2 separate regions of the Homo sapiens genome follow, and region 1 is linked to region 2. A link means that fine-mapping ties the variant in region 2 to the expression of a gene that starts in the linked region. Tissue or cell type: unexposed skin. Region 2 holds a variant in brackets; the other region holds the start of a gene. All regions are shown on one strand. Distances are between the middles of the regions.

What was found. PIP is the estimated chance that this variant, and not a neighbour inherited with it, causes the effect. A credible set is the group of variants that fine-mapping cannot tell apart.
Region 1: KCNQ3 starts here. The variant in region 2 is the best candidate, but not a certain one, in a credible set for the expression of KCNQ3 in unexposed skin (GTEx, PIP 0.80).

What each region holds. Positions count from the first base shown.
Region 1 is chr8:132,478,208-132,483,581 of GRCh38, forward strand. It overlaps KCNQ3 (potassium voltage-gated channel subfamily Q member 3), which reads right to left and starts at 2,888. Exons shown (of 15, transcript NM_004519.4): 1 at 1,940-2,888. The coding sequence starts at 2,325.
Region 2 is chr8:132,414,884-132,420,257 of GRCh38, forward strand. The region is part of intron 1 of KCNQ3 (potassium voltage-gated channel subfamily Q member 3); the gene reads right to left. Among named protein-coding and RNA genes, the nearest start is that of KCNQ3, 64 kb to the right of the region's middle. RefSeq lists an enhancer at 1-759. The variant C/T (reference allele first, on the strand shown) is at 3,352.

The sequences.
Region 1 (5,374 bases), 63 kb after region 2:
AATAATTCTAGAAAAAAATAAAATTGAGGCTCAGTCAGTAACAGCTTTAGCTATTCCCTTCCCCAGACTGGACAAGGCAGGGCTGGAGGTGCTGGCTGGGAAAGGTGGGAAGAGAAGAAAGAGGGAGCCCACATGCTTCCATAGGACCCCCAGGTTTTTCAGTCAGTACGTACTGAACGCGATGTGCATGTGAAAGGACACGTGAATCATTGTATGACTGTGTGCACTCAACGAACTTCTTGTGCCTTTTTTAACTATCACATATTTCAGTATTCACTTCAATTTAACTAAACATATTGCTAGAGACAGAGAGAGGAATGTATTTTAATGCTTTTTTTTCGGCCACCTAAAAAGAGCAAATGAAAGAGCAACAATTGTTAAGCCGTCTCTCCAACCAGACCCCGACCAACACCTGCAAATAGACACACACACACACACATACACACGCACACTCATACAGACACCAACATCCACGTTTCTGGGAAAATGCCCCACTCCCACCCCACCCTTCCTGCTGGTTCCTTAGTTTCCGGGAAGGCACCCTCTCCGGGCTTGGTAACCTCCTTGAAGAAACCTGTTGCTAAGTCTGAGGTCCTGTGTGGACGCCCCCACCTGGTGGCCGAACCTAGAAAAACGTCTCTAACCAAGAAAAACTGGCAGGTAGTGTAACTAACTCCAAGGCTCCTGAGCCCTTCCGACCACATCAGTCATGGGTGAATTGGAGGAGAATAGAGAGGAAAATCCACTGCTAAACGCGTGGGGGAGAGAGGGGGGAGGGGGGGTTGCCAAGGTCATAGGCAATTCCCTGCCAAAACCCTGGTACAGTACAGCTTCCTAGAAGCAGCCATCAGGATGACTAAACCAGAGCCAGAAGGCAGAGCTTGATGGCTGGACGTGCCCTGCCAGCTCCGAGATGGGTGCTGACAGCACAGATTTCCAATCTTGAATGAGGAGCACCCCCACCATCCTCTCCCCCCTCCCAAATACGGGTGGATTTTCCATCCCCAGTGGCAGGTGCAGAGGGAGTTCCTTCTTCCTTCTGGCCATGCATTTACATCGGACTAGCAAGGAGATTCTTTCTAGGAGAACAGTGCCTGGGTGCAAACCTCCAGGCCAAGCCCCTCACATTCCCGGTGCCCTAGGCCAGCCAAAGCAGGAGAAGCAGCAGCGACTGAGGCTGAGGGAATATCGGATCCCAAATCAAGGAGATGTTTCAGCCAAAAGAGTCCCCGGCCCCCTCACCTCCTGGCTCTGTGAAGCCCCAGCCCCTCAGTCTAGGCTTAGACACACACGTTCCCATTCACTTCCCTAAAAGGAATCCTAGAACATGCATTTTGGCCAGTCCCAGCTCCCAGTCAGAGCAGCACCAGGTTCTTCTCTGTACCAGTACCCAGCGATCAGAAGGGTGGCACAAGCAAGCGACACACACACACACACACACACACACACGCTCCCCACTATGGGTGGTGCGCACCCCTCCCATCCCCAACTAAACTCAGTGGCGATCCCAACAGAAGGGATCCACCCGAAACAGAAACACAGAGCTCACGGGAGGACCCGCTTTATCCTCTTCAACCCTCACATTAATTGGAAAAACCCACATAATTATTTTAAGCTTCCAAACCAACACCCCTAGAAGATGTCATAAATGTGCACCCGCGCGCGCACACATCCGCCCAAATCAGCAGGGGAACCACGCTTCGTTTTTTAAGCCCCTAGTGTGGAACACCCGGAGAGCGGCAACACACACACACACACACACACACACACACACACACACACACACCCAGGGAAACGCGTGCTGAGGACGGGCTGGTCTCCCCTTCAGCGGGAAAGCATCCATGGGTCTTAAAGCCCCAGAGACTTCTCAGCTCCAGCCCCGACCCCAAGTCCCCAAGCGCGCCGCCGCCGAGGGCGCCCCGAGCGGCCGGGTACTCACACCAACGCGTGGTAAAGCAGCGCCCAGCCCCGCGGTCTCTCCAGGGCGTCGTAGATCAAAGTTTGGATGCGCCGGTACTTGGCGTTGTTTCTCTTGACTGGGCGGCTCAGCGGGGTCTTGGCCAGGAGCCCGATGCCCTGCGGGGTCCTCCGCTGCCCCTCGTCGCGGCCGCCGCCCTCCAGCAGCAGGGTCCCGTCTTTGTCGGCTCCGGCCCCGAGCGCCAAGGTGACTTGCTCCACGTCGCCGGGCGCCAGCCCCACTTTCCGCTCCTCGTCGCCGGCCGCCGCCGCGTCCCCTCCGGCTGGGTTAGCCGCCCCGCCGCCTCCGCCGCCCCCGTCGCCGCCGCCGCCAGCCGCCCCCGCCGCCCTGCGCGCCTTGAGCCCCATCTGCCTCGCCCCCGCCGGCCGCTTCGCCTTCTCCGCTGCTGCTCTGGGAAGAAGGGGCGCTCGGGGTGCGTGAACGAGGCGGCGGCGGCGGCTGCAAGCCCGGGAACTCCAATGCCATGATCCGCGCGCCCCTCCCCACCCCCCCCCAAAAGCAGGCAAAGGCGGGCCCCCTGGGGGGCAGGGGAGGCCAGGCAGGGGGTCAGGGGGTCACATCCCGCGCGGGTCAGCCGCAGGACCCCGAGGGTCGCGGGCCGGGGGCTGCGGAGAAGCTGGGAGGGCGCGCGAGGCTGGCGCGGAGGCGCTAGGGCGCGCGGCGGCGGGAGCCTGGAACCGGCGCTCCGGGGCGGCGGCGGCGGCGGCGGCACCCAGGCCGGCGAGCCCAAGACAGCATCGCAGTTTATTTACAAGCCCGGTGCCAGCCGCCCTCCCGCCCGCCAGCCACACGCGCCGCCGCCGCCGCCTCCTCCCTCCTCCGCGCTCCCACCCGCGCCCCTCCCCGCCCGTTCCAGCCTCAGCCTGTCAGCAGCAGCAGCAGCGAGCGCGCCGCGGGCCGAGAGCACGCCGCGTCCCTCCCTCCCTCCTTCCCCGGGGTGGGGCCCCATTGTCCCGCCCCGTCGCGGCGGGAGGCCCGGGCGGCGGCGCCCCGCCTCTTCCCGCCGACCCCCACCGCTGATTGTCTGGGGACCCAGGATCGCCTGGGCTACCGCCGCCCCCGTTGCAACCAGGCAGTGCGCCAGGCGGCTGCAGAGCCCGGCTCCTGGAGCTCCCGTGGGCGTTGGGGCTTCCCCTGGATGGGGCGTGACGGCGGGCAGTTGGGGGAAGAAGAGGAAGGGAGGAGGGACTGGGGGGTTGTCGCCCACCAAACATTGGCTCTGTGGTTGCAGCTTTGTGAATTTCCCTCACCCCCTACCCCTGCTCCTCGGCTTCAGAGGTAAAAGCCAAGTTGTCGGGTTGGTCAAGGCCGGGCGCACCGCGAACGCACCTGCTCTGTGGTAGCGAAGCTCGTGACTCCCTCTTCCCTCTTCCCTCTTCCCTCTTCCCTCTAGTTCGTGGTTCATGGTGGATGCCGCGGCCCTCTCCTCCCCCAATCTTTGAATAGCACCTTCACCTGTCTGGGTGGGCAAAGGACTGAAGAAATGCAGTCAGAATCTTTGATTCCTGCTTTGCTCCCGACTTGCACCCAAGCCAGTCATTCCCTCTCTGGTCCAAATTTCAATTCAATCAACCAATCTGTAACCCCTCGTGAGCTTCCCTGGCAAAGGGTAGTGATCTCTGTCCTGAAGATATGAGGTCTCTGCACTCCTAAGACCTCCGTCCTAGCCGGTGGAAGACAATGAAAAGACAAATTTTAACAGTAGAATTTCCGATATTGGTAAATAGTATGTGGTAACAAATTAGAGTGCTGCGCTATAGTGACTGGGGGAGTCACTCTAAACCGGCTGGTCGTGGAAGGCCTTATTGTGGAGGTGATGCTTCGAGGTGAGACCCTAATGACAAGCTGGGAGCAACTATGTAAATGTCCAGAGAGCCCTCCAAACAGCAGAACAGCGGGTGCGGAGGGGAAGGGTGGCTTGAGCTTAATGAGAGTAGGCCACAGGCAAAGGCTAGATCTTGTAAGACACTGACAAAGGACAGGAGCATCCTGCACTTCTTCCATGCCCACCGCCATCGGGGAAGCCTCCATTCCTGCTGCCCCATGGCATCTGTGGCCTCCTTTCCTTCCCACTCTCTCACCTCATGTCTGTCAGCTGGGGTGAGAGACATGGGGTGAGGGGAGACCCTGTGAACAAGGCCGAGGATCTATCCCTAGTGTATAAGAAAAGAGGAATCAGACCTGCAAGAACACCAGCTCTGGATTTGCCTGGAGAAGTTGGCCAAGGAGAGCATAGGAGACAGGGAAGGGAAGAAGGAAGGGAAGGGAGTAGGAATGTATGGGCTGGGGCAGGGGAAGGGTCAGAGAACCACCACCCTATAGAATGACTATCAAAGGGGAGAACCTCAAAAGAGGTCTCCAAATCAAGAAGGGAGGAGTTTCCAGAGGAAGTTAAACTGTAAGACTGAAATCATTAAAACAGTGTGGGATCGGTACAAAAATAAACTCTCAGTGCAACAGAATTCTTTGTCCAGAAACAGACTCTAGCATGGGAACTTAATATTAAACGGGAAGAGTTCATGACAAGAACCCCAGGGGAAAAGGCTGTTCACTGGTTGATGGGTTTTGTGAGGAATTATAGGAAATAGCATATGGAAACGTGGCAGTGCCCAGTAGGACCCCTGTACATCCGTGAATAGATAAATGCTCAGCAGTGAGTTGGAGTAAGTAACCAGTCCAGCAGGCTCTGGAAAGGAGAAAAAGCCCAAGGAAAGGGAATTGCTTGGATCAGAATATCTCCAAATGGGAGCTGGGCACTGCAAAGCCTCCTCCTGCCCATGTGTTAGCCCTGCCATGCCCAACACACCAAACTCACGTGTATTCTTCCTGTCCTACTCCCATCCCAACTAACCAGGAAACAATCTTGCCCTTTATCTCTGAGCACCTTTTCCAAAGTCGCTGTTCTCCCTCAGTCTCTTCCTGTTTTGTTCATTCATTACATTTATCACTGCCAAAAATGATCGCATTTACATTCTGTTTACTTGTTTACTGTTATCTTACTAAACAAGAGCAGGGACTAAGCATCCTAGTTTTGAATCCTGGAAGTGTGTCTGTCATATCACAGGCTCTCAATCTGTGTTGGCAGCATGAATAAATGATGAATAAGCGAATGAAGAGTGTAAAGCTCTCAGCACAATGCCTGGCACACAAGCATTCCATGTATGTTTGTGGGTGAGATTTTTGTTTGGTTTCGTTTTACCATTGTGAAAGTCTTCATACTTAGGAAGTCTTGCTGCTCCTTTATGCTCCTTGCAACTTAAGAAACATGATAAAAACATTTTGACAGTATTTAAAATAAAAAGGCTCACTAGATAAACATAAAAAGAAGACGAGTCAAGGAATGTGGAAAGAAGATGTGAGAATTTATTATTGTGCAATTAATCAAAAGTTCAGATT
Region 2 (5,374 bases):
AATAATGAACGAGGAACAGTGTGTCCGGCAGAAGTAGGGATGGAAAGTGGGCTGAGTTAGGGCTCCGAGCCCCAGACCACCTCCCGGAGAGGGGCTGCTGTCAGCTGTGTTAGAGACACTTGGCAGTTATCGTGTCACTCAGGTGTTCTCTGGCCTGATTGCATCAGCTCACCAAAGCAAGGGCAATTAAAGGCCATCAAAGCTAGCACAGGTGTGGAAAACTATGGCTGGCAGCCTCCTGGGCTGACTCTCAGCCTCCCTCTGAACCATCTACTGCCTCAACCTCCACTCCAGGGTACTTCTCTCTTGTCTTTCATTTCTACTCCTGCAGCCTGCGTTTCCTCCCAGGTCTGCTCCTCAGCCTGATGTCTTTGTCAGCCTGAGTGTAGCAGGCATAAGGATTCAGGAACCTCTACTCCAGTCAGCTCCAGTGCAATGACACCAGAGGAGTGTCACCACCAGGCTGGACAGTGAGGTGTCTCTTGCCCTGGCATTTCCTCTAACATGGTGCTTAGAATGTCACCACCATCACCACCCCATGAGTCTGGGAGCTCTCTGACTGCAGGAGCCAAGTCACCCACCTCTGGATTTCCAGGGCCCAGCCCCCGGCTGCAGAACCAAACAGCAGTGACATTCAGCCTTGTGACTCATGTCTCTGCAGTGACAGTGCTCAGGGACCCAGGCTGCTCTGCAGACCACAGGCTCAGATGGGATTCCATTTCTGTCTGTTCTCTGACTACGAATGTCTCAAGAGCAGCCCCAGGCTCTGGTGCTGTACATGGTATGGACAGTTCTTTTGATGGCCATCAGAGAGAGATAAATCATCGTAACTGTGCATTCTCAACGGGACAAAAAAAAAAGCTACTTAGGGAGCAAAAGCTATCTTAGCTATTGCCATGATTTTCGGCCCTTCAACAGGCCACAGTACATATGCAGCATATCTCTGGCATGAAAATTTCATGGGATTAGGAAGAAAAGATCTAAAAACACTCACCATGGCAATAATCATGAACAAAATATTGAGAAACACTGGTCCATACTACTCATGTGCATGAGAGCCCATCTGGTAGGCACCTCCCAGCTATGCCTTCATTTCTCCAAAGAATAACCAGAGGTTCAGGGAGGTCATATGACTCACCCCAGGCCACAGTGGTGGCACTGAAATAGGACTCAGACCTGGTGCTAGAGGTTCTACCAGAAGACACCTTCCATGTGTGGGAATGAGATGTTTGTCTTGAGGCACTCACGTTTGTTGTTGTTGTTTTTATTTTGATGTTTGTAAGCAAAAAATAATTTTCCTTTTCTAAAAATGAAATTAAGTTCTATAAATATTCATTGCTAAGACGGTATTTCTCTAAACACCATCTCTCAAAATCCCAAACTGGACTTCCTCTTTGGAATTCAAAAACTTATCTTCTCTTTGGAATTCCAAACTTAACAGAGCTTAATAATTCATAAATTCAGTCGGGCACAGTGGCTCATACCTGTAATCCTAGCACTTTGGGAGGCTGAGGCGGGTGGATCACCTGAGGTCAGGAGTTTGAGACCAGCTTGGCCAACATGGTGAAACCTCATCTCTACTAAAAATTAGCCAGACATGATGGCGGGCACCCATAATCCCAGCTACTCAGGAGGCTGAGGCAGGAGAATCATTTGAACCTGGGAGGCAGAGGCTGCAGTGTGAGCTGAGATCGTACAACTGCACTCCAGCCTGCGTGACAGAGTGAGACTCCATCTCAAACAAACAAACAAAAAAAATTCATACATTTACTCAAGAGGTGTATACATCCAGTAGGTACTAGGCATGGGGCACTGAAGCCACAGAGAGGAATTAGATACAAAACCTGCCCTCAAGGGGTTTCCAGTCTAGAGGAAGGTGGTGCCCAGGGCTGGGTCCACGCTGAGAAAAGGTGAGCTCGGAAGGCTGCAGGGTACAGACAGGAAGGCTGGGTAAGTGCAGTAGGCTTTGTGAAGGGTGTCCCTCTGAACTGAAACTGAAAGGCAGGGCAGGTGTTCCCTGTTGGAGCAGACAGATAAACAATCTAAACAGAAGGGCTAACATGTGCAAGGGGACACGTCTGAGGGAGCCTGAAGGGTGGAGGAGCTAACAGTTCTCTAGGGAGAAACTTATGTCCAAGTAGCCACCACCATTATTGGGTCCTCCTTCTGCCCAAAGAAACTGAGCAGAACAAATCTAATCCTCGTTTAACCTGACAGGCTGTACGAGTCTGATCCCATACACTCATGCAAACATTGAAAGTGGGCAACATCCCGTATAGAGACTATTTACAAAGGTGAGGAAAGGTTTAGGGAAATCAACAAGGGAGGGTGAAGCCCCTGGGATTGGCAATAACAGAGAACTGTTACCATCTCTCCAACTAAGGAGGCCAGGGGAGAGACCAGTTGTCAGAAACCAGGAAAACTGATGGCTCTTGGAGGAGCTGTGGCCCACAACAGCCCAACAGGGAGGGGACCAAGTCCTCTCCTCCTGACTCTGACCCACCCATCTCCTGCTGGTTCCTCCTATTGTCTGCATCCAATCAGAACTCAGAGGCAAGGAGGCCACTGGTGAAATTTACAAGTTGAGTCTCCCATGGGTGGAGAATAGATTTGGAGAGGCAAACAGAAAACACCCAGCACATGGACAGCCATGGGAGACATCTACTTTTTTTTGGAAACCTAATCTGCATATAGTCTCTGTTCTGGTGACATACACACTCTATGTGCTGGGGACTTGACCACTTAGCAGCAAGACGGTCATCTGACTCAGACCTGGGCAAACCCATCCATCCATCCATTCATTCATTCATTCATTCATTCATTCCAGGCATGGCACTGAATAAGAAGGATATGTCCGTGAACAAAACAGACTTCCTTCCTAATGGAGTCCAAGCAATGGGAGTGCTCCCGGAATATATGCCAAGCCAGTCATTCAGAACCTAGTTCTGGAACCTCTGTGGACAACAACAGGAAAAAAACGTTCTCTTTCTGTTGGCCTTGGAGTTGAGAGGATGCAGGTCTGGAGACCCATGAGCCAGCCAGAGGGCAGCAGAGTGAGGATGGCTTCAATCCACCCAAGGTCCGTGGTGCAAAAGCACTCCTGGCTCTAGTTGAGGGGAATATTTCTCCACCGAGCCACACCCCCCTCATCTTCCAGAGGAGATTTCCTGAGATCACCGGGATTGGATCAGGGACACGACACTTAGCATGCTGGCACTGTGATTGGGAATAAGAAGGCAGTGCTGGTTTTTTTCTGAGTAAGAACATATTACCCACACTGAGTGACCCACACGAAAACAAGGAGGAAACAATTACTTTGAAGCCTGAGGACAAGATAAATATAAACTCAGA[C/T]CATAGGCTTTCTGAAGAGGAGCGGCATTAACTGGCAGCCAGCAAGAAGGGATCTGTGACAGAGCTGAGGAAACATCCGTGGCTCTGTGTGGGTTTAATGAGGCGTGCTCACGGAAGGCTGGCAGGAGAGCAGAAAAAAGCAGGCGAGGGAGGGAGGAGCTCTGGGTCTCAACCCGACTCTGCCTCTAATGGTCTCTGTGACTAGGGGTAAGTCATTTATTCCCCACTCGGGTTTCACCCTCCTCAATTGCTAAATTTAAAAAGTAGATGGCCGGGCACAGTGGTTCACACCTGTAATCCCAGCATTTTGGGAGGCCAAGGCAGGTGGATCACTTGAGACCAGGAGTTCAAGACCTGCCTGGACAACATGATGAAACATCGTCTCTACTAAAAATATAAAAATTAGCCAGGTGTGGTGGTGCGTGCCTGTAGTCCCAGCTACTTGGGAGGCTGAGGCCAGAGAATCACTTGAGCTGGAGAAGCAGAGGGTGCAGTGAGCCGAGACCATGCCACCGGACTCCAGTTTGGGCAACAGAATGAGACTATGTCTCAAAAAATAAATTAAATAAATTTAAAAACATAAAAATAAAAAGTAGATAGTTGTAAGTGGTGTTGGGGTGTGGGCACAGAGAAAGGTGAGGAAAAGCAGCAGGCAGCATTGTGGTCAGACTTCTGTGCAAGTCCTAATTCAATCTTTAAAAGCCATGTGACGTAAAGCAAGTCAATTTCTAAGCCTCAGTTTTCTCATCTGTAAAATGGGCATTACAGCACCTACCATAAGATACACAAAGATGTAAGTGATCTCCAGCACATGGGAGAAGCATGAGAAAAGCGAGGCAACATCACTGAGAAGAGATCCATCTAAAAAGGTCAATACAATGCCTTCCAGTCCAAAAGCCTAATACTTCGGGAACTAAGGCATGGCAGCACTCTTTGAAGAAGGCAGAAATTCCTTCCACTGCCAGGCTCCCTGCTGAACAACAGTGTTCTCTCACCTTGGCTTAACCACAGCACCTTTCATCCTCTCAATTTTCAGCTGTAAAAACTTTGAAAACTATTAGACCATTTGTCTGGATTTCTGGATTTGCAGGTCACGGGCATCATTGAAGATAGAGCCACCCTAGTAAAATGCAATAATAAATGCAACATTTTTCATTTAATACTGCTTTTAAGAGCATTATCTCCCTCTGTCTTACCATTGTTAATACACTGATGGAAAATTCACACAAAAAACATCCAGTGCCTGAGTCCTGATTCCTGAGACCAGACAGAGCCTTTCTTAGCCTTAAAATGCTTTCCAAGAAAACCATCATGGGGGCCAGAGAAAAGACAATGGACAGCCACACCCATCTCCACCACTGAAGCTGCCTGTGCCCTCAGAGAGTGCTCTCTGTAGATCAGAAAAATGAGAACTGTTTTCTATGTAGCCAGTAGATACAGGTGCTATTCTAGGTGTTGTACCTCAAAACAAATCTTTGATGGTCAATATTATTAGCCCATTTTAGAGATGAGAAAACTGAGGCTCAAAAATCCCGAAGTGACTTTCCAAGGCAACACAGATATTCAGCATCAGTAACAACAACTGATAAGTCCTGTAATTGAGCCCAGTACTGTCTTACCGGAAAACCTGCATTCTTCCAAACATGTCAACATGTCATCTCTTAAAGGATAAAACGAACAGCACTCCCACGTTGGAATACATGGGTACTGTCTCAGTCAGTTTGGGCTGTTATAACAAAGTACCAGAGAGTGAGTAGCTTATAAACAACAGAAATTTATTTCTCACAGTTCTGGATACTGGAAGTCCAAGATCAGGGTGCCAGCATTGCTGGGTTCTGGTCAGGGCCCTCTTCTGGGGTGCAGACTGACACCTTCTCCTTGTGGTCTCATATGGTGGGCAGAACATGGGAGATGGGAGAGGGCTCTGGGGTCTCTTGTACAAGAGAGCACTAATCCCATTCTTGAAGATTCTCCCCCATGACCTAATCACCTCCCCAAAGCCCCACCTCCTAATACTATCACA